7 linked regions of the Homo sapiens genome follow. The protein of the gene in region 4 interacts with the protein of the main gene of each other region in a pairwise test. Each region holds a gene or a part of one and is shown on either strand. Other genes may lie near its edges. The genes, in order: RBM5, EIF4EBP1, TRIML2, MEOX1, CNOT11, RAD52 and MORF4L1.

The links.
Region 1: the proteins of MEOX1 (region 4) and RBM5 interact in binary tests that used the Homo sapiens proteins (3 or more experiments, as listed by UniProt).
Region 2: the proteins of MEOX1 (region 4) and EIF4EBP1 interact in binary tests that used the Homo sapiens proteins (3 or more experiments, as listed by UniProt).
Region 3: the proteins of MEOX1 (region 4) and TRIML2 interact in binary tests that used the Homo sapiens proteins (3 or more experiments, as listed by UniProt).
Region 5: the proteins of MEOX1 (region 4) and CNOT11 interact in binary tests that used the Homo sapiens proteins (3 or more experiments, as listed by UniProt).
Region 6: the proteins of MEOX1 (region 4) and RAD52 interact in binary tests that used the Homo sapiens proteins (3 or more experiments, as listed by UniProt).
Region 7: the proteins of MEOX1 (region 4) and MORF4L1 interact in binary tests that used the Homo sapiens proteins (3 or more experiments, as listed by UniProt).

Annotation. Positions count from the first base shown.
Region 1 is NC_000003.12:50,112,829-50,116,524, reverse strand, and holds part of RBM5 (RNA-binding protein 5), read right to left. Parts: intron 3,143-3,696; coding exon 2,981-3,142; intron 2,576-2,980; coding exon 2,426-2,575; intron 2,346-2,425; coding exon 2,274-2,345; intron 1,098-2,273; coding exon 918-1,097; intron 620-917; coding exon 545-619; intron 504-544; exon of another isoform or gene 1-503. UniProt on the Homo sapiens protein: Component of the spliceosome A complex. Binds to ssRNA containing the consensus sequence 5'-AGGUAA-3'. Regulates alternative splicing of a number of mRNAs.
Region 2 is NC_000008.11:38,036,781-38,040,675, reverse strand, and holds part of EIF4EBP1 (eukaryotic translation initiation factor 4E-binding protein 1), read right to left. Parts: intron 1-3,895. UniProt on the Homo sapiens protein: Repressor of translation initiation that regulates EIF4E activity by preventing its assembly into the eIF4F complex: hypophosphorylated form competes with EIF4G1/EIF4G3 and strongly binds to EIF4E, leading to repress translation.
Region 3 is NC_000004.12:188,106,606-188,111,222, reverse strand, and holds the start of TRIML2 (probable E3 ubiquitin-protein ligase TRIML2), read left to right. Parts: upstream 1-1,619; 5' UTR 1,620-1,980; intron 1,981-4,617.
Region 4 is NC_000017.11:43,651,590-43,655,484, forward strand, and holds part of MEOX1 (homeobox protein MOX-1), read right to left. Parts: intron 1-3,895. UniProt on the Homo sapiens protein: Mesodermal transcription factor that plays a key role in somitogenesis and is specifically required for sclerotome development. Required for maintenance of the sclerotome polarity and formation of the cranio-cervical joints.
Region 5 is NC_000002.12:101,251,757-101,255,685, forward strand, and holds the start of CNOT11 (CCR4-NOT transcription complex subunit 11), read left to right. Parts: upstream 1-1,129; 5' UTR 1,130-1,208; coding exon 1,209-1,722; intron 1,723-3,929. UniProt on the Homo sapiens protein: Component of the CCR4-NOT complex which is one of the major cellular mRNA deadenylases and is linked to various cellular processes including bulk mRNA degradation, miRNA-mediated repression, translational repression during translational initiation and general transcription regulation.
Region 6 is NC_000012.12:928,919-932,813, reverse strand, and holds part of RAD52 (DNA repair protein RAD52 homolog), read left to right. Parts: intron 1-8; exon of another isoform or gene 9-1,492; coding exon 1,493-1,594; intron 1,595-2,669; coding exon 2,670-2,763; intron 2,764-2,927; coding exon 2,928-2,995; exon of another isoform or gene 2,996-3,050; intron 3,051-3,895. UniProt on the Homo sapiens protein: Involved in double-stranded break repair. Plays a central role in genetic recombination and DNA repair by promoting the annealing of complementary single-stranded DNA and by stimulation of the RAD51 recombinase.
Region 7 is NC_000015.10:78,889,812-78,893,706, forward strand, and holds part of MORF4L1 (mortality factor 4-like protein 1), read left to right. Parts: intron 1-1,177; coding exon 1,178-1,203; intron 1,204-1,672; coding exon 1,673-1,761; intron 1,762-2,400; coding exon 2,401-2,502; intron 2,503-3,727; coding exon 3,728-3,816; intron 3,817-3,895. UniProt on the Homo sapiens protein: Component of the NuA4 histone acetyltransferase (HAT) complex which is involved in transcriptional activation of select genes principally by acetylation of nucleosomal histones H4 and H2A.

The sequences.
Region 1 (3,696 bases), on a different chromosome or scaffold from region 4:
CCACAGGCCTCTATTTGCATTTAAATCCCTGCCCACCTGGCCGCCAACCTGCCCCAACCACCAGCACTAACTGCTTGCCCATTATTGTGTCACAGGCTTCTCTCTTGCCTTTGTTCCCAGATCTGCTTGCCATGCCCTGCCCACCCTTCCTTTCATATCACCTGCAATAACCTCACGTCCTGCTGTCCCTTGGGATTAATTTGAAGCGCACTTCTTTGCCCATGAAGGCTTCCCTGGCCAGGCCAAACTAGACCACTCTCTCCATAACAAAATCCAGCGTATTTAAGCAGCAAGCTCTGGCATTGCTGTGAGAGAGTCTCGGCAGTGTGCTTCTGCCTTGTGCACCCTTATGATGAAGGGACAATGTGAGGCTCACAAGGCACACAGAGGCTGGGTCTAGGCTACATGAACTACAATGGTCAGATGACAAGGGTATGACAAATCCTCCTACCCTGCCCCTGGGATCTGGAACTAAATGCTACAAATAAAAGCTAAAGGCAATTATCCCAATATCCTCTTCCTTGTGGCACAGTTTCCCATTCACCTCTCTCTCCCTTAGCTCCAAGGCTTCCAGCTCCTGCTCGCTCAGCCTGGATCGTCGATAGATGTCCATGTTTTGCTACACAAAAGATTTGAAAGACACAGTAAGGACTCAGACCATCTTAATTTGAAATGTCCTAACATTAGTAACATCTACTGTACTTTAAGAGCCAAAGCCCAAACAATACACAATCACATAAAAACTATAGTTTGATGTGTGTGGAGCTGCCAGACTCCGTCCACTGTCATCGGGAACAGCTTTCTGTAAGGCCATCATTAGATGGCAGGTATTTTTGGAACCGTCAGGACTGTTAGGGCACTCAAATTGTCTCACTGCCTCCCCTCGCCCCCTCAGATCAGCTCAGAAGCATGGCCACCTTGTGAAGGTCTGAGAGTTGCTGGTGCCTGACTAGGGCATCTTTGTTCGGGAACTGGCGCCGGCAGAGCAGACAGGCCATCTTCTTCCAGTCAGCTAGCTTCTCTTCCTCACTCTCAAGTCTCTCCACCAGCTCCTCCTCATTGTCACTGTCACCACTGTAAGCAGCAACCAGACCCCTCTGGAGACAAAAGGAGGACAGGTCACTGGAAATGTACAATAGGAAGATGGCGGTGGCTATGTACCTGGATAAAGTAATGCCTCATCCGAAATGTTAACAAATCCCCATTACTGCATGTCACACTTTAGTAATGAATCACATTTTGTCAACTGCGTGGAGCAGTCAGGTCCTTGAGTGCTAGGCCTGACAGCCTCCTGGTACCAACCTTCTTGGAGCCTAAGAAATGGATTCCTGGGTGACTACCTTTTTCTATTTCTTTGGAGAAGGAGTCTCGCTCTGTTGCCCAGGCTGGAGTGCAGTGGCGTAATCTCAGCTCACTGCAACCTCCACCTCCCAGGTTCAAGTGATTCAAGTGTCTCAGCCTCCCAAGTAGCTGGGATTACAGGCGCTTGTCACCACCCCTGGCTAATCTTTTGCATTTTTAGTAGAGATGGGGTTTCACCACATTGGTCAGGCTGATCTCGAACTCCTGACCTCAAATGATCCGCCTGCCTTGGCCTCCCAAAGTGCTGGGATTACAGGTGTGAGCCACTGTGCCAAGACTGTTTTTGTTTTTTTTTTTTTTAAATGAGACAGGGTCTTGCTCACTGCCCAGGCTGGAGTGCAATGGTATGATCCCCAAAAAGTGCAGTGGCTCACTGCAGCCTTGATCTCCTGGGCTCAAGCAATTCTCTTACCTTAGCATCCCAAGTAGCTAGGAGTACAGATGCAAGCCACCACACCCAACTAATTTGTTTCTAATTTTCAGTAGAGACGAAGTCTTGCAATGTTGCCTAGACTGAGTGACTATTTTCAAACCACTGACCACAAATAAAAATCCCAAATACAACATATCAGAATAATGGCCCACCCAGACCAGTATCTATCTAGTAAAACAAGCTTTTTCTTGTCTTAATTTTCTCTTTCCAGACCATTAAAACTCTCCACTCACAGATGCAATGAAACTTAATTAACTGAGCTTAGGAATTGAAGCTTCTTTCATCACTCCATCTCATCTGCTCTCACAGAAAACAAAGCCCCGACATGGAATCTATGTGCAGAAACTGCTCCAATACCCATCAACAGTGATCACATTCAGTTTTAAGTAGGAATCACATTAGCCAAGATGCAGTTGAGCCTTAAAGTGAGACACAAACCACAGATAGGGTCTTTAAAACACTGGTGGTACTCCCTTACTTTGAGGGGATTCTCCTCATCTCCATTTCGCACCAATTCTGGGATGAGCTGCTGCCTTTCAGCTAAGGCTCCCTGGGAAACAGAGGACAAGCCATGAGACTCAAGTTTTAGGTAAGTTCCCATCATGACATACTGGCCATTCCTGCTATTACCTTCTTCTCAAAGAGAGCAAAGCCAGCGTCTGCTGCAGCAGATTCTCTCCTTTCTTCTTCCCTCAAGGAATTGACAGGCTGAAAGCTATTTTTAAAGTTTTCTTTCTGCTTATTCAAACTCTTAGCCCAGCGTTCCATGTCTTTGGCAATCTAATGTCAAACAACAAACACCAACAAAAAAATATTTAATCCCCTGTGCCATGAGAATGAGCCATTAAGGATCTTATCTCAACTATATGCCCTGTAACAAACCCCTTTTACTCTTACTTCCACCTACAAATATTTCCATTAGATGTTATCACATATAACCAAAGTCATTCATAAATACTGCTTGAAAAGCTTTGAGATTTCCAGGGCTTTTTTCCCTAAGTACACAGGCTGACAGTCAAGATATGGTAACAATAACAAATTGCAAAATGCTCTAAGAACTTAGTATGAATAAAATGTGAAGCCCAATTTTTAAGAATCCAAATAATACTGACATAAATGCTACAACCCCAAAACTAAGAGTTCAGCCCAATACCTCAATGAAAGAAATATGGGTCATGTTCTAACCTGCTGGGCTGTTTTGCTCTTGGGTTTCTCCTTCTTCTCTTTCCCCTCTTTTGCAGGAGGCAGGCCCGACTGCTGGTGGGAGCTAGACTCTGCAGCTGGCACGTAGGTCTCTTTTTCCCCATCCCAGTAAAGGTACTGCTGGGTCAAGGAATTATAGTAGTACTAGAAAACAACAAACAAAAAACAATTAATGCAGACTTTCTGCTATGTCAGTCGATTACATATTTTGTCAAAAAAAAGATAAAGTATGTTGTGGACTAGTGATATTTCCTGCCCAGAAAAGACCCTGGGCACACCTTGGTATAAGTAAAGGTGATGAACCACCTAGCAAAGAGGTGTGACACTGCTAGAGTAAAAATAGAATATGATTTCTTTAAAAAGTTTAGTTCCCAGCCGGGAGCAGTGGCTCATGCCCGTAATCCTAGCACTTTGGGAGGTGGTGGTGGGCAGATCACCCAAGGTCAGGAGTTCAAGACCAGCCTGGCCAACATGGTGATAACTCATCTCTACTAAAAATACAAAAATTAGCTGGGCATGATGGCACACCTGTAATCCCAGCTACTCAGGAGGCTGAGGCAAGAGAACTGCTTGAACCTGGGAGATGGAGGAGGTGGCAGTGAGCCAAGATCATGCCACTGCACTCCAGTCTGGGCAACAGAGTAAGACTCCATCTCAAAAAAAATGATAATAAAAATTTAAAAAGTCTAGTTCCCATT
Region 2 (3,895 bases), on a different chromosome or scaffold from region 4:
ACTCCCAGGCTTCCAGCTGTCCCCAGCAATGCCCCAGATGTATGGGTAAGACCATCTTGGAGCTTCCACCCCAGGACAGTCCAGCTGTACACTGTATGCAGCCATATGAGTAAGCTCAGCAAGATCTACAAAGAACCCAACGAACCCAAAAGATGGAGAACAATAACAAATCGCTGCTGTTTAGTTACTGTTTGGGGATGGCTTGTTATATAGCAATAGCTAACTGATACAACCATTTTCACCAAGTGTCCCTGCACACCTAAGAAGCCCTGATCCTCTGGGCCTAGTATCTGAGCTCTCTTAATGAGCTTTCATGGGCATAACCATCAGATTACATGGAGCCCTTTGCTGTGCATACCCAAATGTCAGTGAGCAGCAGTTACTTACTCTTGCCTTGTCAGCAATGCTGGATGCAAACAGGTAAATAAACAGCATCAGTCACAGTGTCTGAGACCCCGGCCCCAATACTGGCTTGTTCAGTGTAAGAAAAAGTTGCCAGATGCAGTGGCTCACATCTGTAATCCCAATGCTTTGGGAGGTTGAGGCAGGAGGATTGCCTGAGGCCAGGAGTTCAAGACCAGCCTGGGCAACATAGACCTCATCTCTACAAAAAATAAAAATTAGCCAGGTGTGGTAGCATGTGCCTGTGGTCCCAGCTACTCGGGAAGCTGAGGCAGGAAGATTGCTTGAGCCCAGGAGCTCAAAGTTACAGTGAGTGGTGATCGCGCCACTGTACTTCAGCCCATAGACACTCCAGCCTGGGCCACAGAGGTGAGGCCCTATCTGTTAAAAGTTTTTTGTTTTTGCTTTTTAAAAAAAAGAAAAAAAGTCACATCCACTCCCTGTTCGGTAATATTGGGACAAGAAATACCAGCAATACTGTTTAATACAAATGTTCCTTGACTTAAAATGAAGTATGTCCCAATAAATCCACCATACATAGAAAATATCTTAAGTCAAAAATGCATTTAGGGCCAGGTGCAGTGGCTCACGCCTGTAATTCCAGCACTTTGGGAGGCTGAGGCGGGCAGATCACTTGAGGTCAGGAGTTTGAGACCAGCCTGGCCAACATGGTGAAACCCCATCTCTACTAAAAATACAAATTAGCTGGGTGTGGTGGCACACGCCTATAATCCCAGCTACTCAAGAGGCTGAGGCAGGAGAATGGCTTGAACCTGGGAGGCAGAGGCTGTAGTGAGCAGAGATTGCACCACTGCACTCCAGCCTGGGCGATAGAGCAACACTCCAACTCAAAAAAAAAAAAAAAAAAAAAGTATTTAGTACACCTAACCTACTGAACATTATAGCTTAGCCTTCCCTACCTTAAATGTGCTCAGAACACTTACATTAGCCTACAGTTGGACAAAACCACCTGGCAACACAGCACACTATAGACTCTATAGTGGGCTGTCCAATCTTCTGGCTTCCCTGGGCCACACTGGAAGAAGAATTGTCTTGGACTACACATAAAATACACTAACACTGGCTGGGTGTGGTGGCTCACGCCTGTAATCCCAACACTTTGGGAGGACGAGGTGGGCGGATCACCTGAGCTTGGGAGTTCGAGACCAGCCTGACCAATATAGAGAAACACCATTTCTACTAAAAATACAAAATTAGCTGGGTGTGGTTGCGCGTGCCTGTAATCCCAGCTACTCAGGAGGCTGAGGCAGGAGAATCACTTGAACCTGGGAGGCAGAGGTTGCAGTGAGCCGAGATTGTGCCATTGCACTCCAGCTGAGCTTAAAAAAAAAAAAAAAAGAAAGAAATTTCATAATGTTTTAAGGAAGTTTACGGACTTGTATTGGGCCTCATTCAAAGCTGTCCAGAGTGCATGTGGCCTGAGGGTCTCGGGTTGGACAAGCTTGTGACTGGCCATTTGTCCTCATGTTTGTGGGGCTAAATGGGAGCTGCAGCTCACTGTCCCTGCTGAGCATCTCGAGAGCATGTACCTCGTATCGCTGGCCCAGAAACAGATCAAAATTCACAATTCAATGTACAATTTCTAGGCTGGGCGTGGTGGCGCACACCTGTAATCCCAGCTACTTGAGAGACTGAGGTGGGAGGATTGCTTGAGCCTGAGAGGCGGAGGTTGCAGTGAGCCGATATCATGCCAATGCACTCTAATGTAGGTAATAGAACAAGACTCTGCCTTTTTTTTTTTTTTTGAGATGGAGTCTTGCTCTGTCTCCCAGGCTGGAGTGCAGTGGCGTGATCTCGGCTCACTGCAACCTCTGTCTCCCGGGTTCAAGCGATTCTTCTGCCTCAGCCTCCTGAGTAGCTGGGAGTACAGGTGTGTGCCACCACACCTGGCTAATTTTTTGTACTTTTAGTAGAGACGGGGTTTCACCATGTTAGCCAGGATGGTCTCTATCTCTTGACCTCGTGATCCACCCACCTCAGCCTCCCAAAGTGCTGGGATTACAGGCATGAGCCACCGTGTCCGGCCAAGAATCTGTCTTAAAACAATTTTTAAAAGTACAATTCCTACTGAACACATATCACTTTCATACCATCGTAAAGTCAAAAATTGTAGTCACACCATCATAATCGGGGACTATCTGTATGAGGATAAGTAGGAGGGTTCAGAGAAGGTTATTCTCTGGCTGGTCCAGTGGCTCACGCCTGTAATCCCAGTGTTTTGGGAGGCTGAGGTGGTGGATCTCTTGAGCCCAGGAGTTCCAGACCAGCCTGGGCAACATGACAAAACTCTGTCACTACTAAAAATTTAAAGATTAGCCAGGCGTGGTGGTGTGTGCCTGTAGTCCCAGCTACTGGAGAGGCTGAGGCAAAAGGATCACCTGAGCTCAGGGGGTTGAGACTGCAGTGAGGCATGATCGTGCCACTGTACTCCAACCTGCAACAGAGTAAGACTTTGTCTCAAAAAACAAACAAACAAAAAACAGACAACATCATCAAAACAGAGAAAGTTAGTTTCTGCCCCTGGGACATTCTGAGATAAACACTTATACCCTGCAACTGAAAGGACAGAAAAGGAAATTTAAACGTCATCATTAAGCCAGCGGAGACTCAGGCCTGACAGTAAGAAAACTAGGTTATCCTGACCAGGCATGGTAGCTCACGCCTGTAATCCCAGCATTTTGGGAGGTCGAGGCGGGTGGATCACAAGGTCAGGAGATTGAGACCATCCTGGCCAACATGGTAAACCCCGTCTCTACTAAAAATACAAAAATTAGCTGGGTGTGGTGGTGCGTGCCTGTAATCCCAGCTACTCAGGAGGCGAGGCAGGAGAGTCACTTGAACCAGGGAGGTGGAGGTTGCAGTGAGCTGAGATCATGCCACTGCACTCCAGCCTGGGCGACAGAGCAAGACTCAGTCTCAAAAATAAATAAATAAATAAAATAAGAAAACTAGGTTATCCTGAGGGGAACGCTTTCATTCCAGCATTCTTTTCAACTCTTCACCTTCCAGACACTAGACCTGGCATTAGGTCATGTGGATACAAAGATGAGTAAGACTGCTCAGAAAAAATTTCCTGGCTAACCTAGGGAACAAACACGTAAACAAAAACGTGTGATTCATTCGCTATGAATCATAATGGAGAGAGACCCCAGGCATGGGTCTAAGTCAGACCAGAAAGAAACAGGTTTTTCATGGGTTTGTTGGCACAGGCAAGAATCTATGTGCACAACTGAACATTTTTTTTTTTTAAAACTCACCTTAGAAAGCAATGTTCCTTTTTTTCAATATTGCTGTGCCTTCCCAGGCCAAGCACAGTGGAGCATGCCTCTAATCCCAGAACTTTGGGAGGTCAAGGCGGGTGGATTACTTGAGCTCAGGAGTTTGAGGCCAGCCTGGGCAACATGGCGAAACCTCATCTCTACCAAAAAATACAAAAATTAGCCGGTTGTGGTGGTGCATGCCTGTAGTCCCA
Region 3 (4,617 bases), on a different chromosome or scaffold from region 4:
GGTGGGGCATGTAACAGTAAATAAGGGTTTAGCACACTTTTTTGTAATGTTTTTAGAATTATCTTAAAATATTGACTCTTCTAGAATTAATAATTTAATTATTAATAAATATTTATTTAATAGTAAAACAGGCTTTAATAAGTATTTATTTAAGCATTTAATACTCTAAAACAGGCTTTAAGAGACTTCAAAACCTGACAATATGCTTGATGTTTATTTTCCATTTGATTCAAAGATTACAAAGTTTTCTTGTCAAGATGAGTAAGCTCAAGAGTTATGAAAGCTCAAGGGATGGTGAGAGTAAATGACAGAGTATCTGACAACAAGTATGTGTGAGTATCTTCACAGACGTTGGCCGTACCCAGGCTTAGAAGAGAAAGGAAGATTGGATTAGAAAAATAAGAGAAGTAAAGGAGGATGGACTGGCTGAGGAGGGGAGGGGGCACAGGAATAAATGTGGTCTATTTGAAGAAAGCTGGGGAATTGGGTTTTGGAAAAGAGAGTGGGTGTAGGTAATCATCTGAGATAAGAGAAAGGGTGTATGGCCAGGCGCGGTGGCCAGAACTTTTGGAGGCCAAGGAGGGTGGGTCACCTGAGGTCAGGAGTTTGAGACCAGCCTGGCCAACATGGTGAAACCCCATCTCCACTAAAAATACAAAAATTAGCTGGGTGTGGTGGGCGCCTATAATCCCAGCTACTCGGGAGGCTGAAGTGGGAAAATTGCTTGAACCTGGGAGGCGGAGGCTGCAGTGAGCCGAGATCGCTCCACCGCACTCCAGCCTAGGCAACAGAGTGAGACTCTCATCTAAAAAAAAAAAAAAAGAAAGAAAAAAGAAAAAGAGAAACGGTGTATTGAGATTCCATAAGGTAGAACCAGGTTCTGAAAGATCAGATAAGCAAAGCAGAAGAATTCTCATTATCCTGTCAGCAGCATAAAGAAAAAAACTCCCTGGTTTGATTAGCAGGGGATTGACTGACTGATGCAATAAAAACCCTCGGGGACAAAACTATAAAACTTAGAAAGCTGTGAAGAGTTCCTCCTCACTGAAGCCAAATATCAAGTATGAATTATCTGGGATTGTTCCCTGACCTCCCATCTGTGACAGATTCCATAGGCAGTTATCCCTACTCTTGGTTTTTCTTTCCACAGATACTGGAATGAACACTTCTCCAGCAAACGTTCTAGAAACTAACAAGTCAGGCATTATTTTCTACTAAGGAACAAACACAGTCTTGAGTGTTAGCTCGAAGGCTTCTTTCCTGTGAAATTGTCAATATACACTAGATTCATTAAGAAAGAAAACCCCAAACCTTAAGGAGCTAGAGGTGTTAGGCACTGTACATGGCACTGGAGATAAAACAAGATATTTATCCAACCAAGGTCAGGGCTATTAAGCATTTTCTGGGAGTCCATTAAAAATGTAAATTACGGACCCCACCGTAGATTTCTGGAATCAGAGACCCTGTGAAGAGGCTTGCGTTTTAATAAACTCAGGTGGTTCTAATGAGATTAATTGTGTGAATATGATAAGAAACTTCACAGACGCCTTCCTGATGGTGTGAGGGCGGGGCTGAGGGAGGAATTGAACAGATAAAATCTCTTCAGTCTCCACTGTTCCAGCTTTTTCCCTAAAGGAAATACCTTGGTTCGGTGTGGTGACTCATTCCTGTAATCCCAGTACTTTGGGAGGCTGAAGCAGGCAGATTGCTTGAGCCCAGGAGTTCAAGACCAGCCTGGGAAAAATACTGAAACCCCGTCTCTACAAAAAATACAAAAATTAGCCGGGTGTGGTCGTGCAGCGCCTGTAATCCCAGCTACTCAGGAGGTCAAGGTGGGAGAATCACTTGAGCCTGGGAGCTCGAGGCTGTAGTGAGCCGAGATTGCGCCACTGCATTCCAGCCTGGGTGACAGAGCAAGACCCTGTCTCAAAAAAAAAAAAAAAAAAAAAAAAGGAAATACCCAGGATTGCTACAAAGAAAGTAAGTGAGATTTTCTCTATAGATCATTTTCTTAATAATTGTTTCTTTAGATTTCTAAACTTGATCTTAGAATCTATGTGTGTGTGTGTGTATCTGTGTGTTATCAGGAAAAAGCCTGAAGAAAAATATTAGGAAAAACAAAATAAGGGTAGACAACATGCTGGGGACTTAATTCGTCAATTTTCCTTTGCTGTTTCTGTAAAAATATTTAGTCTCTGTCCCTCTCTCATTACACCTTCAATTTTTACTGGTTTAACATAAAATATCGTTTACAATATTTATTGTGCATCGAGTATGTCAGATGTAGACACAGGGCATCTCAAGGACTTAGTTTCTTATGGATGGAGAGTGACCCACAAGTAAACTTGTTCATAGAAAGATAAAATCTTTTCGCTACTAAGAAAATAAAATAAGGAGATGAGTAGTGGGAAGGTATTTCAAATTGAGTAGTGATGGAAAGGTCTCTCTTGGGAAGACATTTGAGCTGAGAACTGAAGAGAAGAAAGAAGAGGCAGCTGGAATTGCAAAAATATGAGAGAAGAGCTCTGTTGGCCACGGAAGGGGGAAGGGCTGTGATGAATTAGAGGCAGCTAGATTGACAGTGATGGGGGAAAGCTATAGAGAGATCAGAAGAAGGCAGGAGGCCAGATTGTATAGGACGGGGTTATTACCCACTTCGATCTTACTCTAATGCCATAGAAAGTGACCACAAACCTGCTCACTTGGTTTTGGTTTTAAAATAGTATTCTGGTGGTTGAGCAGAGAGGAGCTGGAGATGGACGAGGAGGGCAGGACAGAATATAAATTTGGAAAACAATAGTTGAATTGGTGAAAGGAAGGCTTAAACTGTGGCTCTAAAGGAATGAGTTTGGGGGAAGAGAGCCACTGGGTTGAGATCCTGAGCGGCTTTAGATATGTTAATTTTGAGTGCTCCTTAGACATTCTATTGCAAAAATGTTGGGAATTGGGCAGGAGATTGAAATCGGAGAATGGAACTTAAATCTTCAGAAACGAGTAAGATTACCTAGGGAGAGACCAGGACTGGGAGACCAGAACTCAACCTTGAAGCACCCCAAGATTGAGAGGTTCAGAGGATGTGGGACCAGAAAAGGCCACGGAGAACAAGACCAGACAAGTTAGAGGAATGTCAGCTGCAGACAGATGAGAGAAGAAAACATTCTAGGAAGAAGGGTGTGGTCAGCTATGTTAACTGCTGCTGAGAGCTCAAGGAAAAATTTGAGTTGGTGAATTTCTTTGTTTTGGTGACTCAGTGGAGTCATCTCGGACATGTTCAGGGACCTAAGACACGGGAAACCAGCAGGGATTTCAAAGACCTAAGCAGAAGAAAGGATGAGAGCATCAAAAACAAGGAAGGAGGGAGAAAGTATTTGCAACTCACACAATTTACAGGAACTTGGATCTATAGCTCTCTCTTAAAATTGACCCCTCCCTCCAAAAAGGCCAAACCTGATGGAATAAACTGAGAGAGAGGCTTGAACATAGACTTCACAGCAAAAGAAGTGAAAATGGTTTTTTAGCATATGAAAATAAAAGGCTTAGACATATTAATAATATAACAGATGGAAGTTGAAAATATATGAATACACTATTTCTCACCCAGCCAGTGGGCAATGATCCAAAAGTTTAACATCTTTTTAATTTGTTGCTTGGAGTGCAAAATTGTACAACTTTTGTGCTTGGGAAACTGACAAAACATATCAAAATTATGGATGCATTCATTCACAGTCCTATTTGTGGGGAATATGCCTTTTCAGGCCAAGATTCTCAACTTTTTGGAATCAGTACTCCTTTGCACTCATTATTGACGAAGATCCCAATAAGCTTTTGTTTATGAGCGTTAATATCTATGTTTACTGTATTAGAAATTTAAAACTGCATTTTATAGTTATTCATTTAAAATAATAAAAACAAGCCAGGCACGGTGGGTCACACCTGTAATCCCAGCACTGAGGCTGAGGCGGGCAGATAACCTGAGGTCAGGAGTTCCAGATCAGTGTGGCCAACACGGTGAAACCCCGTCTCTACTAAAAATACAAAAAATTAGCTGGGTGTGGTTTCACGCGCCTGTAGTCCCAGCTACTCGGGAGGCTGAGGCAGGAGAGTCGGTTGAACCCGGGAGGCGGAGGTTGCAGTGAGCTGAGATCGTGCCACTGTGCTCCAGCCTGGGCGACAGAGATTCGGTCTCAAAAATAAATAAATAAGTTAATAAAATAATAAAAACAAAAACATTTTTCTGAGAAAAAAGTTTTCGAGCTAAGTGGCTTTTTTAATAGAGAAAGCCAGAATTACAAAGGACTTAAGAAGGACATTGGGGCCCTTCTTCTTGCCAAAGATGGGCACAACGTCGACAAAGCGCCGGTGGTACCGCACCCGCGGCTCAGCCCGGCCTGTCTTCTCGCTTGGCCACCTTAGCAAGAGTCTGACCTGTCACTTTCCCAGCGCGGGCCGGGGAACCACGGACTTGGCCTCCCGGGCAGTCGGGGCCTCCCACTTCGCCCTGGTCCAGGGTGGCCTCGCCCTGCAGGGACGCGCCTGCCAGGAGCACGATAGATCTTCCGGGGCGAAGCCCTCCAGTGGCGCTGCCTGAGCCGCGACCTGGGAGACCGTCTCCTGGCC
Region 4 (3,895 bases):
GCCAGAGGCCAGGGAGCCAAATTGGGTGAGAAGCCCAAGTTATGGGCAGAGAGGGAGTTGGGGAAAAGGGCCAGCTCTGGAGGTCTGCAGGGGCTGTGAGTCCTGTCTCTCAGGCAGAAAGGATTCTCTGCCTCTGAGTTATCCCCCCTCCCTGGGCCCAAGTGCCCGTGATTTATTCAAGCCAGAGAAATAGGTGAGCGGGCAGGAATCCTGAGTCCCTAGCATGGGAGAGTGGCGGAGCAGAGCTGAGGTGACCCCTGGGCTGACCTTCTTACAGCTCACGGGCTCATTGGATCTTTCCCTCTTCGATGTTGGTCAGGATCCTGCTGCCTCAGCAGAAACGGACTTTCTCCAGAGTTTCCGACTATACCTGATCAGGGGCCTGAGCAGGCCCAGGCGTGGGATTTGTGCTGGAGCCTCTGAGTTCAGATGGTGGCCGAGGCCTGGGTCCTGCTTTGGGCTCTGAGCTTTCTTTGCTTGTCAGAAGAGGAGGTCAGGAGCTCTAATCAGGAGGCCGGGGATGCCCAGAGGGATACTGGCTGAGTGTGGAGTTGCTGTCTCCCCTCCCACGCTGGCCACTCTGGACCATAAAACTTCTTCCTCACTAGGGGTTCTGGACATGGACTCGGGACAAGAGGAGCTGCTGCAGCGGTGCACCCCTCAAACCACACCCCACCCAGCACTGCCACAACCCTAAGCCAGTAGCATCGTCAGAGTCAGGCAGGCCCGGCTGACAGCAGGGGGCAAAGACTTCAGCAGAGCTCAGGACACTTTGGCCTGTTTTTGAACGTGGGAAACCTGATGCAGCCAGCCAGCATCAGGGGAGGACTTTAAAGAGAGAGGGGTGCTCATATGTGGGTTTGGGAAAACTGGAGCCAGGGGTTACCAAGTGTTGGCTGTGGACTCTACATCTCTGATATCATTTAGTCTCACAGCTACCCACCTTATGAAGTAGGTACTGTTACCCTCATTTCTCAGAAGAGACTCAGGGAGGGTTAGGACTCACCCACGTCCACACAGCCAGGAAGTTGTGGATCAGGGACCTGAACCAGGGCTACCTTGTTAATTCGCTTGACCTTAGTCTCTGACCACCCTTCCTCCTATTACTGTACCGTGGCCCAGCAAGAAGGTGAGCATGGGCATGAGGTCACTTGTATGGGACTTGGCATCACTCTGGCGACCCAGGTGACACTTATTGGGGTTGTCCATTTATTTCATTCTCATCTCTACTATTGCTTTTTTTTTTTTTTTTTTTTTTTTGAGACGGAGTCTCACTCTGTCGCCCAGGCTGGAGTGCAGTGGTGTGATCTCGGCTCACTGCAAGCTGTGCCTCCCAGGTTCACGCCATTTTCCTGCCTCAGCCTCCCAAGTAGCTGGGACTACTGGCGCCTGCCACCACGCTTGGCTAATTTTTTTATATTTTTAGTAGAGATGGCATTTCACCGTGTTAGCCAGGATGGTCTCGATCTTCTGACATCGTGATTCACCAGCCTCAGCCTCCCAAAGTGCTGGGATTACAGGTGTGAGCCACCGTGCCCAGCCTACCATTGCCTTTTTTTTTTTTTTTTGAGACGGAATCTCACTCTGTCTCCCCAGCTGGAGTGCAGTGGCACGATCTTGGCTCACAGCAACCTCTACCTCCCTGGTTCAAGCGATTTTCCTGCCTCAGCCTCCTGATTAGCTGGGACTACAGGTGTGAGCCAACACGCCCAGCTAATTTTTGTATTTTTAGTAGAGACAGGGTTTCATCATGTTGGTCAGGCTGGTCTCAAACTCCTGACCTCAAGTGATCCACCCACCTTGGCCTCCCAAATAGCTGGGATTACAGGCGTGAGCCACCGCATCCAGCCCATGCCTCTTTTCTCCTTTCCTCTGTCAAACAGCTCCCTTCTTTAGAGATTCACTCCTAAAACTGCCTCCACTTTTTTTTTTTTTTTTTGAGACAGAGTCTGGCTCTGTCACCCAGGCTGGAGTGCAATGGTGTGATCCAGCTCACTGCAACCTCCACTTCCCAGGTTCAAGCGATTCTCCTGCCTCAGCCTCCTGAGTAGCTGGGACTGTAGGCGCATGCCACCACGCCCAGCTAATTTTTGTATTTTTAGTAGAAATGGGATTTCACCATTTTGGCCAGGATGGTTTTGATTTCTTGAGCTCATGATCCGCCCACCTCGGCCTCCCAAAGTGCTGGGATTACAGGCGTGAGCCACCGCACCCGGCCAACTGCCTCCACTTTTTATGTCTGTACTTGTTGGTGTAAGATAGGAAATCAGGGATCTGCTTGTGGCTAGAAACAACTTCCTGTCTCAGTGGAAAAGCTCTACCAGCCGACAGGACCCTGAGCTAGGAAAGCTCTGGGGTCAGGCACACATCTGGGTGCTGCTTTCACTAAAGGGGTTTTCAACTGAAGGGTCTGTGCCACAGTTTGAACCTTGTCCCTTGTTCCTGTCCCCGTACAGTCCTGTACAGTCCCTATAAGGGCAGAATTGTGCTTCCCTCCCCAATTCCTATGTTGAAGCCCTAACCCCAGTACCTTAGAGTGTGTCTGTATTTGGACATAGGGCCTTTAAAGAAGGGATTAAGTTAAAATGAGGCTGTTAGGGTGGGTCCCAATCCAATCTGCCTGATATGCTTATAAGAAGGGGAGATTAGGGGCTCATGCCTGTAATCCCAGCACTTTGGGAGGCCAAGGCGGGCGGATCACCTGAGGTCAGGAGTTCGAGACCAGCCTGGCCAACATGGTAAAACCCCTGTCTACTAAAAATGCAAAAATTAGCCAGGTGTGGTGGCACACGCCTGTAATCCCAGCTACTTGGGAGACTGAGGCAAGAGAATCACTTGAACCTGGGAGGCAGAGATTGCAGTGAGCCGTGATCACGCCATTGTGCTCTAGCCAGAGCAACAGCAAGACTCTTGTCTCAAAAAAAAAGAAAAAGGAAAAATTAAAAATATGGTCAGGTGTAGTGGTTCACACCTGTAATCCTAGCACTTTGGAAGGCCGAGGCAGGAGGATTGTTTGAGGCCAAGAGTTCAAGACCAATCTGGCCAACATAGCGAGACCCCTGTCTCTATATTTTATTCTAATAATAAATAATTTTTTTGGAAAATTAAAAATATAATTACTACATAATATAGCAATTTCCCTTCTAGGTATACACTCAAAAGAATTGAAAATACACTCTCCAGCCGGGTGCAGTGACTCACACCTGTAATCCCAGTGCTTTGGGAGGCTGAGGCCAGTGGATCACGAGGTCAGGAGATTGAGACCATCCTGGCTAACACAGTGAAACCCCGTCTCTACTAAAAATACAAAAAATTAGCCAGACGTGGTGGTGGGCGCCTGTAGTCCCAGCTACTCGGGAGGCTGAGGTAGGAGAATGGCATGAACCCGGGAGGCGGAGCTTGCAGTGAGCTGAGATCGCGCCACTGCACTCTAGCCTGGGTGACAGAGTGAGACTCCGTCTCAAAAAAGAAAAAGAAAAAGAAAATACACTCTCCAGGAGGTATTTGCACACTCATGTTCATTGCAGCATTATTCACAACTGCCAAGAGGTGGAAGCAACCTACATGTTCATCAACAGATGAATGGATAAAGAAATTTGGTGGCCGGGCACAGTGGCTCACGCCTGTAGTCCCAGCACTTTGGGAGGCTGAGGCAGGCAGATCACAAGGTCAAGAAATTGAGACTATCCTGGCCAACATGGTGAAACCCCGTCTCTATTAAAAATACAAAAATTAGCTGGGCGTGGTGGCGTGTGCCTGTAGTCCCAGCTACTTGGGAGGCTGAGGCAGGAGAATCACTTGAATACGGGAGGCGGAGGTTGCAGTGAGCCGAGATCGCGCCACTGCACTCCAGCCTGGCAACAGAGTGAGACTCCGTCTCAAAAAAAAAAAAAAG
Region 5 (3,929 bases), on a different chromosome or scaffold from region 4:
TGAAAAAAATTTTTTTTACATAAAATATCTTTCTCCCCAAAAACACATAAAATAAAATAAAAATATGTTTTAAAAAAGAATTGAGGTGGCTCTTAACTAGATAATTAGAATCGCTGGTGGTAATCACTGGCGAAATACGCGTACGTTTCTGTAGGTTTAGGGACCGGGCAAGTCTGGGAAATGCCACCTGGTGGTTCTCAGCCCAGACTACACCTCAGACTCACCTGAAGAGGTGGGGTTTATTAATATCTCAATCAGCATCTCTGGGGGTGGAACTAGGTATTTGTAACGTCTCCCCGTGGGTTTCTAATGCACAGCTAAGTGCCCAGGATAAGTGCCCTAGGGCAATCTAAGTAAAACGTGGCACAGCAAACAATTTTGTAAATGAATATTAACTGGAGACATGTTCTCGAAATCATGTTAAGAGAAAAAACCATGTACAAAAAAGCTCATAGTGCAGTATGATTCCATTTCTGCAATGAGTGTAAGACTAGAAATTAACCGTGGTTATGTGAAATGTGTGGTATATTTGCATTTACTAAATTAAAAAAAATGTTTCTGAGACAGAGCGCCCGGGCTGCAATGCAGTGGTGATCACAGCTCACTGCAGCCTGGGACTCCCGGGCTCAAGCGACCCTCCCGCCTAGGACTCTCAAAGTGCTGGGATTACAGGCACGCGCCACCACGCCCGGCCTGCATTTACAATACTTTTTACGACGAATACTTACGGATGTTATATTAAGAAAATAGTTAACATCTGAGGTGCATTCTTCCAAATAATAACGTAGACAGCACTTACTGGGACCGTCTGGCACCAGGAACCGTCCTGGGGACCGCCAAAGGGCGGCTTAACCTCGCAGCTGCGCAGACGCATGCAGTCCCCGGGCTCTCCTGCCGCGGGACCTCGGCAGACCTAACCCTGAACGCCACCAGCCCGACCTCGCCCCGCCCCTCCCCTCCCTTCCCGGGCCCCGCCCCCGCTTCCTGCCAATTCGCCCCGCCTACCCCGCGTCTCCGCATCCTCTTCCTGGCTTCGCTCCATCAGCCTCGCTTTCGCTGGGCGCTGTCCCTCTCCGCGGCGGTCTGGTTTCCCCGACGTGTTTTGTTTGCGACGCTGTCGTGTAACAGCGCGCTTTACGGCCGCGGGGACGGAGCGAGCCGGCGCCAGGGCCCCTCGGGCCGGGAAGAGGGGAAGGGGAGCGAGGTTGATGCCCGGCGGAGGGGCGAGCGCGGCGTCTGGCCGGCTTCTCACCGCCGCGGAGCAAAGAGGGTCCCGGGAAGCGGCAGGGTCGGCGTCCAGGAGCGGCTTCGGGGGCTCCGGCGGCGGCAGAGGCGGAGCAAGCGGCCCCGGGTCCGGGAGCGGAGGCCCGGGGGGCCCCGCGGGCAGGATGAGCTTGACCCCGAAGGAGCTCTCGAGCCTGCTGAGCATCATATCGGAGGAGGCGGGCGGCGGCAGCACCTTCGAGGGCCTGTCCACCGCCTTCCACCACTACTTCAGCAAGGCCGACCACTTCCGCCTGGGCTCGGTGCTCGTCATGCTGCTCCAGCAGCCCGACCTGCTGCCTAGCGCGGCGCAGCGCCTCACGGCGCTCTACCTGCTCTGGGAGATGTACCGCACCGAGCCGCTGGCCGCCAACCCCTTCGCCGCCAGCTTCGCGCACCTGCTCAACCCCGCGCCGCCCGCCCGCGGCGGCCAGGAACCCGACCGCCCTCCGCTCTCAGGTACCTCCTGAAGCCAGCTGTGCCGTGTGGATAGCGTTAGATTCCGCAGCTTTCCACCTGCGCTGCTGGGAACTCACCTGAAAGGGAAATTAACTATCCCTGTGAAATGATCATCCTCTTTTTCCGCCTCTCTCTGCGTTCCCACGCCCCTCACTCCTCCCCGCCTTAACTCTAAAGAATGGAGAGGTGGTAGCTTAATTGCAAGTTCGTGACACCGAAAATGATTTCTCTATACACCCCATCACATCATACAGCTCAGTGTAGGTCTTGACATGTTTAGTGTCTCAAATACGGTTCGTTCTTCGAAAACCCGTCTGTGGTGTGTGAAGTTAAAACCAATGATAAGACTGGATCTGTCCCCGGTTTTTAGTCTCAAAGGAGTACGTGGAAGTCAGTATTAAGAAGCTGAAGAAGTTGGTGGGCGGAAATACACATGAAACACCTTAAAGACTTTGCAGCCGCCTTTCTTAGCCTGTTAGGGATGGGGGCAGAGGATAGAAAGTCTCAAATTGATGATCTCGCGTTTGGAAACACATGACTTACTGGACATTATGTAAAGTGCATACGTGGTATACATTATGTAAAATGTATTTACTATTGTGTGGCATTGGTGAGATCAAACTAGTAGGTTAGATGCGAGGCTGCATTTTTTTTTGTTTTTAAGCTCAAGCAGGTGATGCTTTATGTGGATTTGCTTTGCGAGAAGACTTGCAGTCAGAAAACAAGAAAAATGGCATGTTGACAACGGGACCTGAAGGATTTAGGAACCAGTGTAGTGGAGGAAGCACACAGAGATAGGAAACAGCTTGATCTTACATTCCTTAACCAGTATAGGTAGGGCCTGCTATACAGTGAGTCAAGGCTAGGCAGTAGATTTTGAAGTAACACCAGGAGTTTGTTTTTATGGTACAGGAGGGCCGCGTTTCTAGTTAGTGTTCCTGCCGGGCATCCCATCAGGATCTTCTGATAGGTGTCCTGTAGTGCCCTTATCTAAGAAGGGCAACCCTTTGTATTGGCCTGAGATGCCTTTAGGGTACAGGTACTTAACCTGCTTCTAAGAAGCTTGTGACTGCCCAGAAAGTGAATGTAACACAGGTTTGTGGTCAAAACTCACCACCTAGGCCTGGCTAGGTGGCTCACGCCTATAATCCCAGCACTTTTGGAGGCCGAAGTGGTGGAGGTTGGGGGGTGGGAATTGCTTGAGGCCAGGAGTTTGAAACCATCCTGGGCAACATAGTAAGATCCTGTCTTTACAAAGCAATAAAAAATTTGCTGGGCATGGGGTGGCTAACACCTGTAGCCCCAGCTGCTCAGGAGTTTGAGGCAGGAGGATCACTTGAGCCTAGGAGTTTGAGGCTGCAGTGAGTTAGGGTGACAGCTTCTAAACACACACACACACACAGACAACCACCACCCTAGGGTGCTTGTATTAGAGGATTGGGACACTGGGATTTAGATCAGAGGGCCCTTTGAATTCTGAAGAACAAGTGAGGCAAAGAAACCGTGACTTATATAATGTCATTCTCATGTACAGTGAATCTAAACCCACACCTAGTCCGTAGACCGCATTATACACACAGATTTGCCATAGGTGGGATGGCAGTCACCAGAGAAGGAATCCATGGATGGATTATATTTAACCATTTTGTGCCTCAGATTCCTCATCTGTAAAATGCAAATAGTAACAATTCCCAGCTGGTAGAGTTGTTACAAAGAATAAAAGTACCTGTGAGTGGGCTGGGCGCGGTGGCTCACGCCTGTAATCCCAGCACTTTGGGAGGCCGAGGCGGGCGGATCACAAGGTCAGGAGATCGAGACCATCTTGGCTAACACGGTGAAACCCCGTCTCTACTAAAAATACAAAAAATTAGCCGGGCGCGGTGGCGGGCGCCTGTAGTCCCAGCTACTTGGGAGGCTGAGGCAGGAGAATGGCGTGAACCTGGGAGGCGGAGCTTGCAGTGAGCCAAGATTGTGCCACTGCAATCCGGCCTGGGCTAAAGAGCGGGACTCCGTCTCAAAAAAAAAAAAAGTACCTGTGAGTGTTACCCACTATTATACCATTATTAAAGTAGGTAGGGATGGTGTGTAGATAACATAGAAGAGAAAATATCAGTGCCTACACTCCACTCCCAGAGCTGCTGATATTGTATGTTTAGGGTAAGACATTTAGTGGGTATGTCTTCAGAATGCTTTTCAGATGACTCTGA
Region 6 (3,895 bases), on a different chromosome or scaffold from region 4:
AGCAGTACCTAGTACGTTGACGCGGTGCGTGCGGGGGCAGTACCTAGTACGTTTACATAGTACATGTGTGAGCTATTTGTTATTGGTTTTTCCTTTAGATGCATTTTTTGGGAGTCTTGTGAACTCTGGAGGGCATTTTGGAATGTTAGCTATCAAAAGACTGATAGTACTGGGGATTAGATTTAGATTTTAAATTTTTTGTGGGGGGGGATAGATAACATATTTGTATGACATCAAATTCAAAATGAAACTGTGAAAATCTCCCTATTTCCTATTGCCCCTGTGTGCATGCCACCCAGTTCTATTTCTTTTTTTTTTCGAGACTGAGTCTTGCTTTGTCACCCAGGCTGCAGTGCAGTGGTGCGATCTCAGCTCACTGCAACTTCCACCCTCTGGATTCAAGCAATTCTCCTGCCTCAGCCTCCCAAGTAGCTGGGATAACAGGCATGCACCACCATGGCCAGCTAATTTTTATATTTTTAGTAGAGATGGGGTTTAACCATGTTGGCCAGGCTGGTCTCGAACTCCTGACCTCAGGTGATCCGCCTGCCTCGGCCTCCCAAAGTGTTTGGATTACAGGCGTGAGCCACCACGCCCGGGCTTAATTTTTTTGTATTTTTAGTAGAGATGTGGTTTCACCATGTTGGCCAGGGTAGTCTTGAACTCCTGACCTCGTGATCTGCCTGCCTCGGCCTCCTAAATGCTGGAATTACAGGCATGAGCCACCGCGCCTGGCTCCAGTTGTCTTTCTTGGAGGCATGGAAAGTTACTGGGGGTCCTATTCCTTGTAGGGACATTGTGTGCACAGAAAAGAGTTTCTTGCTTTGTCCACCCAAACTCCATCTTTGTCTTTAGCAGAGAGTTGTGAGTATTCATCTCATCTGAGCAGGGCAAGGGGGACAAAACCCAAATCAGCAAGCAGTAGTGTGTTTCTGTTTGTGCAGGATGGGAAATTGTTGTATTGGAGAAGGCGTCAATCTCTGGAAAGGACAAATGGAAGCAAGGCTTCCTACCCCCGTGCTCTTTCCGTACTTGCTTCCTGTGCTGACGTCATTTACAGATCTGGAGGCAGAACATTTTAGCTTCCTAAGCTTCAGAAACATTTATAAGGATGGTAGCAGCAGCTAAGGCAGCAGTTCTCAAAATGCAGTTCTCAAAAACCCTGGGGTTTCTGAAGATCTTTCAGAGTCCAGAAGGTCAAAATTATCTTCATAATAATACTATTTGCCTCTTTCACACTCATTGTCTCATGAGTGAATGGTAGAGTTTTCAGAGAGTGCATGATATGTGGTGATGTCACTGCTATGATGCCTAATGGCATGCATGCCTTAAAAGTTTCTCAGTTTTGATTCCTAATAGGATACATAGAACCCACATAAACAAAGGTTCTGGGGGGTCTTTTTAAGAGTATAAAGTCTCCATAAAGGATGGAGACTCAATGATGTGAGGAATGGTGGAAGTGTGAATTTAATTTTCTTTTTTGGGGTTGCAGTGCCAGTACACAGCAGAAGAGTACCAGGCCATCCAGAAGGCCCTGAGGCAGAGGCTGGGCCCAGAATACATAAGTAGCCGCATGGCTGGCGGAGGCCAGAAGGTAGGAGAATTCATGTGCCTGGAAAGCAGGCATCCATACCGCAGACTCCGATGGTCTTGCCAGTTCCCTCTCTGGGTCCTCAGGGATTCGGAAGTCTGCTGTTAACTGTTCCTGGAGGTCTCCCAGTGCCCCTGGGAGGGGATGGGTTCCAGACTTCATTCTCATCCGAAGGGGCCTGGGCATGGTCTTGACACTCGCATAACCGCCGTCTTAAGATTTTTACATCATCTTTTTTTTTTTTTATTTTTAAAGACAGGGTCTTGCTCTGTCACCTAGGCTGGAGTCCGACCAGTGGTGTCATCTCAGCTCACTGCAGCCTCCACCTCCCAGGCTCAAGCGATCCTCCTGCCTCAGCTTCCTGACTAGCTGGGACTACAGGCACACGCCACCACACCTGGTTAATTTTTTAATGTTCTGTAGAGACGACATCTCGCCATGTTGCCCAGGCTGATCTCGAACTGCTGGGCTCAAGTGATCCTCCCACCTCGGCCTCCCAAAGTGCTGGGATTACAGGTGTGGGCCACCATGCCCAGCCTTTACACCATTAAAAAAAAAATGTTCCTTTTGCCATTTGCTTTTTTTTTTTAATTAAACACTTTTTAAAGAACTTATGATTGACACATAATAATTGCATATCATTTGCTTCTAATTTTAACTTCTGTGTATATTTTTGGTCTTCCATAAAATATGTCAAACAGATTTGTACTTTTTGCAAACTGAATTTTAGCAACTGCTGGGTGAGTTCCTCCTCCCAACAGACCATTCGTTCTCGCGGGCTCCATCTAGAAGATTTTTGAAATAAATTCATTGAGAATTTTCTTGAAAAAAAAATTTTTTTTAACAGACTGGTTCTCACTCTGTCACTTAGGCTGGAGTGCAGTGGCACGATCCTAGCTTACTGCAGCCTTGAGCTCCTGGGCTCAAGTGATCCTCCCACCTCAGCCTCCCGAGAAGAATGTTTAAGGACAGTTTATCGAAAAAAGTAGATGAGGAATAAATTATGTCAATTTTGATTCACATTTAAGTGTGGTAAGGAATTAACACAGCTTTTCCTTAAAAACATTTGTTTTTCTAGGTGTGCTACATTGAGGGTCATCGGGTAATTAATCTGGCCAATGAGATGTTTGGTTACAATGGCTGGGCACACTCCATCACGCAGCAGAATGTGGGTGAGTATGCTCTCCAGCAGTGGGGACTTCTGCACTGTCCAGCTCCTGCTGAAAGTCTGCTGTGGGTGAGGAGGTAAGGTAGGTGGACTCAGCTGCCAGCAGGAGGAATGGTTGTGGCCCAGCGGTCAGTGTCCTCTTCAACTTGCTCTCTTTCCCACTCCTAGATTTTGTTGACCTCAACAATGGCAAGTTCTACGTGGGAGTCTGTGCATTTGTGAGGGTCCAGCTGAAGGTGAGGGGATGGAGTAGACCTGCTGCCCGGAAGGATCAGTGGGTGGTAGGAGAAGGTGAGCAGGTAGGGAAGTAGGTAGCTGGACGGGGACCCAGGCTCCAGAGTTGTGTCTCAGCCAGCGTTCCCTAGAGTGGTGGAATTCAAATACTCTTGCTCATGTGCTCCCTAAAAGAATGGAAAAACTGTTCTCTTGCACATGTTCAAGCTGACACCTAAAAGTTTTCACCATATATAAAAATTGTTGCAAAGGATGTATTTTTTGGCATATGGTAAAATCTGACATTTTAAAATACAATAATTTTACCATCACTGATAAGTGTTTGGAAACTCAACTTTAGGCAAAGCAGGTCCTTTTGTTATAACATTGATGAAAACAAAAATATGTTTTGTTAATAAGTTGTTTCACTTCAAGTCACAGTTATTTAAGGTGTTAAGTGAGCACTTACCGTAAATCTGTTGAATCTTGTTAAATATTCCAGTGGACTCTAAATACTATAGAGGATAAGATCTATCATTTATTTGAAGAAATACAATGAACAAGCTTTTTTTTAATCATTAGAAATTTTACATTGTTCTTTCTTTATCTGAACTCATATTTCTATTCTATTTCCCCACTGGTTTTAATCCTAATACATATTTATGGTTGAAAGTTTGGCTAGGCGGGGTGGCTCATTCGTGTAACCCCAGCACTTTGGGAGGCCCAGGTGGAAGGACTGCTTGAGCCCAGGGATTTGAGACCAGCCTGGGCAACATAGCGAAAGCCCGTCTCTACTAAAAATACAAAAAATTAGCTGGGCATGGTGGTGTATGCTTGTAGTCCTAGCTACTCAAGAGGCTGAGGTGGGAGGATCACCTGAGCCCAGGAAGTCGAGGCTGTGGTGAGCTGTGATTGCGCCACTG
Region 7 (3,895 bases), on a different chromosome or scaffold from region 4:
TTATTTAAAGCTACAGAAAAGTAAAAAATCCAGGTGTTATAGTATCTTTCCATCGAAAGTAATCCATAATCATGGGCTCTATAAACTGTTTCCTTTGTGGTCTAGAAATAATAATGTAAAAAAGCAAAATTAGGCCAGGCATGGTGGCACACGCCTGTAATAGCATTTTGGAAGGCCGAGGTATGCGAATCACTTGAGGTCAGGAGTTTGAGACCAGCCTGGCCAACATGGTGAAATCCCGTCTCTTAAAATACAAAAATGAGCTGGGAGTGGTGGTGGGTGCCTATGGTCCCAGCTACTTGGAAGGCTGAGGCAGGAGAATCGCTTGAACCCGGGAGGAGGAGGTTGCAGTGAGCCGAGATCACCCAACAGACAGAGCAAGACTCCATCTCAAAATAAATAAATAAAGCAAAATTAGCAATTTACCATTTGACAGTATATAAGTGACGTGAGGTAAGTTGCTGTTAGAGATGATAATCAAGATGAGGAGACTTAAAACAAAAAAATTACACAAATCTAAAAATATTTTGGGGAACAAAAATAATTGGAAAAAAATTTTAACCTTTGACACCTTTTTTTTTTGGTGGGCCTAATAATGTAGTATATACTATAACATATATTAATATAACCCTGGAAGAACGAAGTTGTTTACTAAAGTGTTCTTGGTTTGCTTTTCTTTTTTTTTTGTCTTTGAGACAGGGTCTCTGTCACCAAGACTGGAGTGCAGTGGTGCAATCAAGGCTCACTGCAGCCTTGGCCTCCTGGGCTCAAGCAATCCTCTCACCTCAGCTTCCCAAGTAGCTGGGACTATAGGCGTTTGCCAGTATGCCCAGTTAATTTTTGTATTTTTTATAGAGAACAGGATTTGCCATGTTGCCCAGGCTGGTCTGGAATTTTGAGCTCTAGAGATCCACCCCCTCTTCACCTCCCAAAATGCTGGGATTACAGGCATGTGCCACTGCGCCTGGCTTGGTTTATTTTTTTCTATTATGTGGAGAGAGATGGGAATTTAACCAACTATCAATAAAAATCCTTGTGTCTGAGTAGGACACATATTTACCACCTGATCCTTTATCCAAGTTAGTATTTCTCTGTGAACTTAACCCTGATAAAGGGAGTTGAAACAGAGGCAGTTTTACTGGAAATAATTATTTTTCTTTTTTTTCTCTCCTTTTAGGAAAACGAAAAAGAACAAACAGAAAAGTAAGAATATTAACTTTCTTAACGTTAATTTATGTTACCTCTATGACATTGACGTTTTTATTTTGAAAGCTATGAAATTTTGGAGTAAGCTTATGTTTATTGATTATCTCAAATAGGAGTCTCACAGCAGTGTTATAAAATAGGTACATGGTGGTAGAGACCTCTTTTTGCCAAGGAGAAACTTGTGAGCATTTATTTTCATCTGCTTTAGTCTTAATGTCTCCCACTGAGAAGATAACATTTATAAATAAATGGAAGATGGTGATACTAAATGTTGTCTATACTAAATGTTCGGTAGAGCTCTTCATGAAAGTTGTATTTTTGGTAGGAATATGATTCTTTAACTTAGATTGAGGTAACAGCTGTGTAATGGAGAAATAATGAAAAGGGTTAATGTGTCAAGAGACTATTTTCCTTATAGAGTTTGTTAAATTAGCTAAATGAGACCCCTCCCCGCCAACATTTACAGCACCTGGAAATGGAGATGGTGGCAGTACCAGTGAGACCCCTCAGCCTCCTCGGAAGAAAAGGGCCCGGGTAGATCCTACTGTTGAAAATGTGAGTTTTTCTTGTGTTTATGAATAGCATGTTAGGATTTTTAGTCTCAGTTACATGACATAACCATGGGAGCTTTGATTATCTACAAGATTTGCTTACATGGTTAATACCTGAAATTAAAAATTTTCTCTTTTGGGGGTAAAGGATAAATTTCTGTATATCTTTATTTCACCTGTAGCTCCAGATTTACCTACCCAATTGATCATTTGTTGTGTAAGCTTCATGTTCACCTACAAGACTATTTCTTTGGTGTTACGTATTTATTTTTAGGAGTTAAAGATGTACCTTTAAGATGGTTGTGTTTGGAATAGTTTTGATATCCATGGTAAATAAGAAAATACTAAGTTAAAATGTATCAAGTCAGGGTGTTTCATTTCCTGAACAAGAGGAACCTTACTGAAGAATTTTTACCTTTACAAGAAAATGCACTAAATAGACTATAGTTCAGGTCAGATTCTTTTCTCCCAACAGCGAACCGCGTATGGTCGTTTTTATTAATGATTTTAAAAAATGACAGTACAGCTGTATGCTTGGCTACTTTAAGATTTATCCCTAGTGCCTCTAAAAGTCAGCTCCCCTCCATGTTTGGTATTTAGCAAGAAAGGTTAGGTTTTTAATACTCCTCCTGTTTCTGTTTAGGAGGAAACATTCATGAACAGAGTTGAAGTTAAAGTAAAGATTCCTGAAGAGCTAAAACCGTGGCTTGTTGATGACTGGGACTTAATTACCAGGCAAAAACAGGTAACTTGAAAAGCTACCCAGATTGTTAAGCTATATGATACATTCTTGCTAGCAAAAAAAGTTTTTAAAGGAAAATGTTATATTGACTTGAATTATTAAGGTATGACTGATAAAATAATATTTTAATTTAGAGGCTGAACACTTTAGAACTACTACCAGAAAGAGTAAGTTAGAAGAATAAAAGTTCACATATAAATTTTATGAGGTTATAATGATAAAGGTGGAAATAACTCATTTTTGGAGATTGCTAGGGCAGGAACTCGTTCTGAAAATTCATAAAGGTGAAGAAGCATATGTCTTACTGTCATTGCTAATGGTAGGCCATAGAAAGCACACACCACCACCTGCAAGGTATTCATGACCCTGAAAAGAACCTGAATCTTACTAAGCGCCTGGATCTATTGTTAGTTTGCAGGAAATAGGATGTTTAATGGAGTGACATGTTTGTCAATCGTTGAACTCTATAATTGAGAATTTTATAGGACAAATGAAGCTATTTGAACAAATGGCATAGGTAGGGTTAGGGATAGTTGGGGGAGATGATTAGGGACTGCTTGAGGATTATGAGACTTAAGAGACCTATCAGTCATATACAGTATGTGGATATAGTTTGAATTCTGATTTGAATCCTTTGGAGGGTTATGCAGTTACAGCTAAACTGCGAAGATTCAAGCATGGCTGTATCACTTATTATTTGTGAGTTTGGACAAGTTTCTTAGCCTTTTTGTGCTTCTGTTTTTGCATTTAATGGAATAATAGTTTGTATTTGACAATGCTGATGAGAGGACGAAAAGATAATTATTTTAATGCTTTAGACTAGATCTAGCAAATAGTATGCATAACAGTAAATGATGACTTGGTAGTACCACAAAGGCACATTCGTGTCTGTTATGTGTGTGTGACAGATTGACATTTTTAAAAGCTGTGCTGTTCTGTCTAGTAGAGTCTCATTTGGCTGTTTAAATATATAGATGCTCCATAACTTAGAATGGGGTTACATCGCAATAAACCCAGCAGAGAGTTGGAAAATTAAGTCCAAACCATTGTAAGTTGGGAACTGTCTGTAGTTTCTCAGCCACATTATCCATGTTTTAAGTGCTGAATAGTATCTTTCCTAATTTGAAATACTGTTACTGTTACCTGATCTTTGTATAAAAACTTGCCTGGTATGATTTTTCTTTAAAAAAGAGAGTGCTTATATTTAAGCATATTTTTGTCTTCATAGCTCTTTTATCTTCCTGCCAAGAAGAATGTGGATTCCATTCTTGAGGATTATGCAAATTACAAGAAATCTCGTGGAAACACAGATAATAAGTAAGAATATACATTTTTCAGATGACACTCAAAAGACATTTAAAAAAGTTTCTAAATAAGTCATCTGAAACTTGTACTG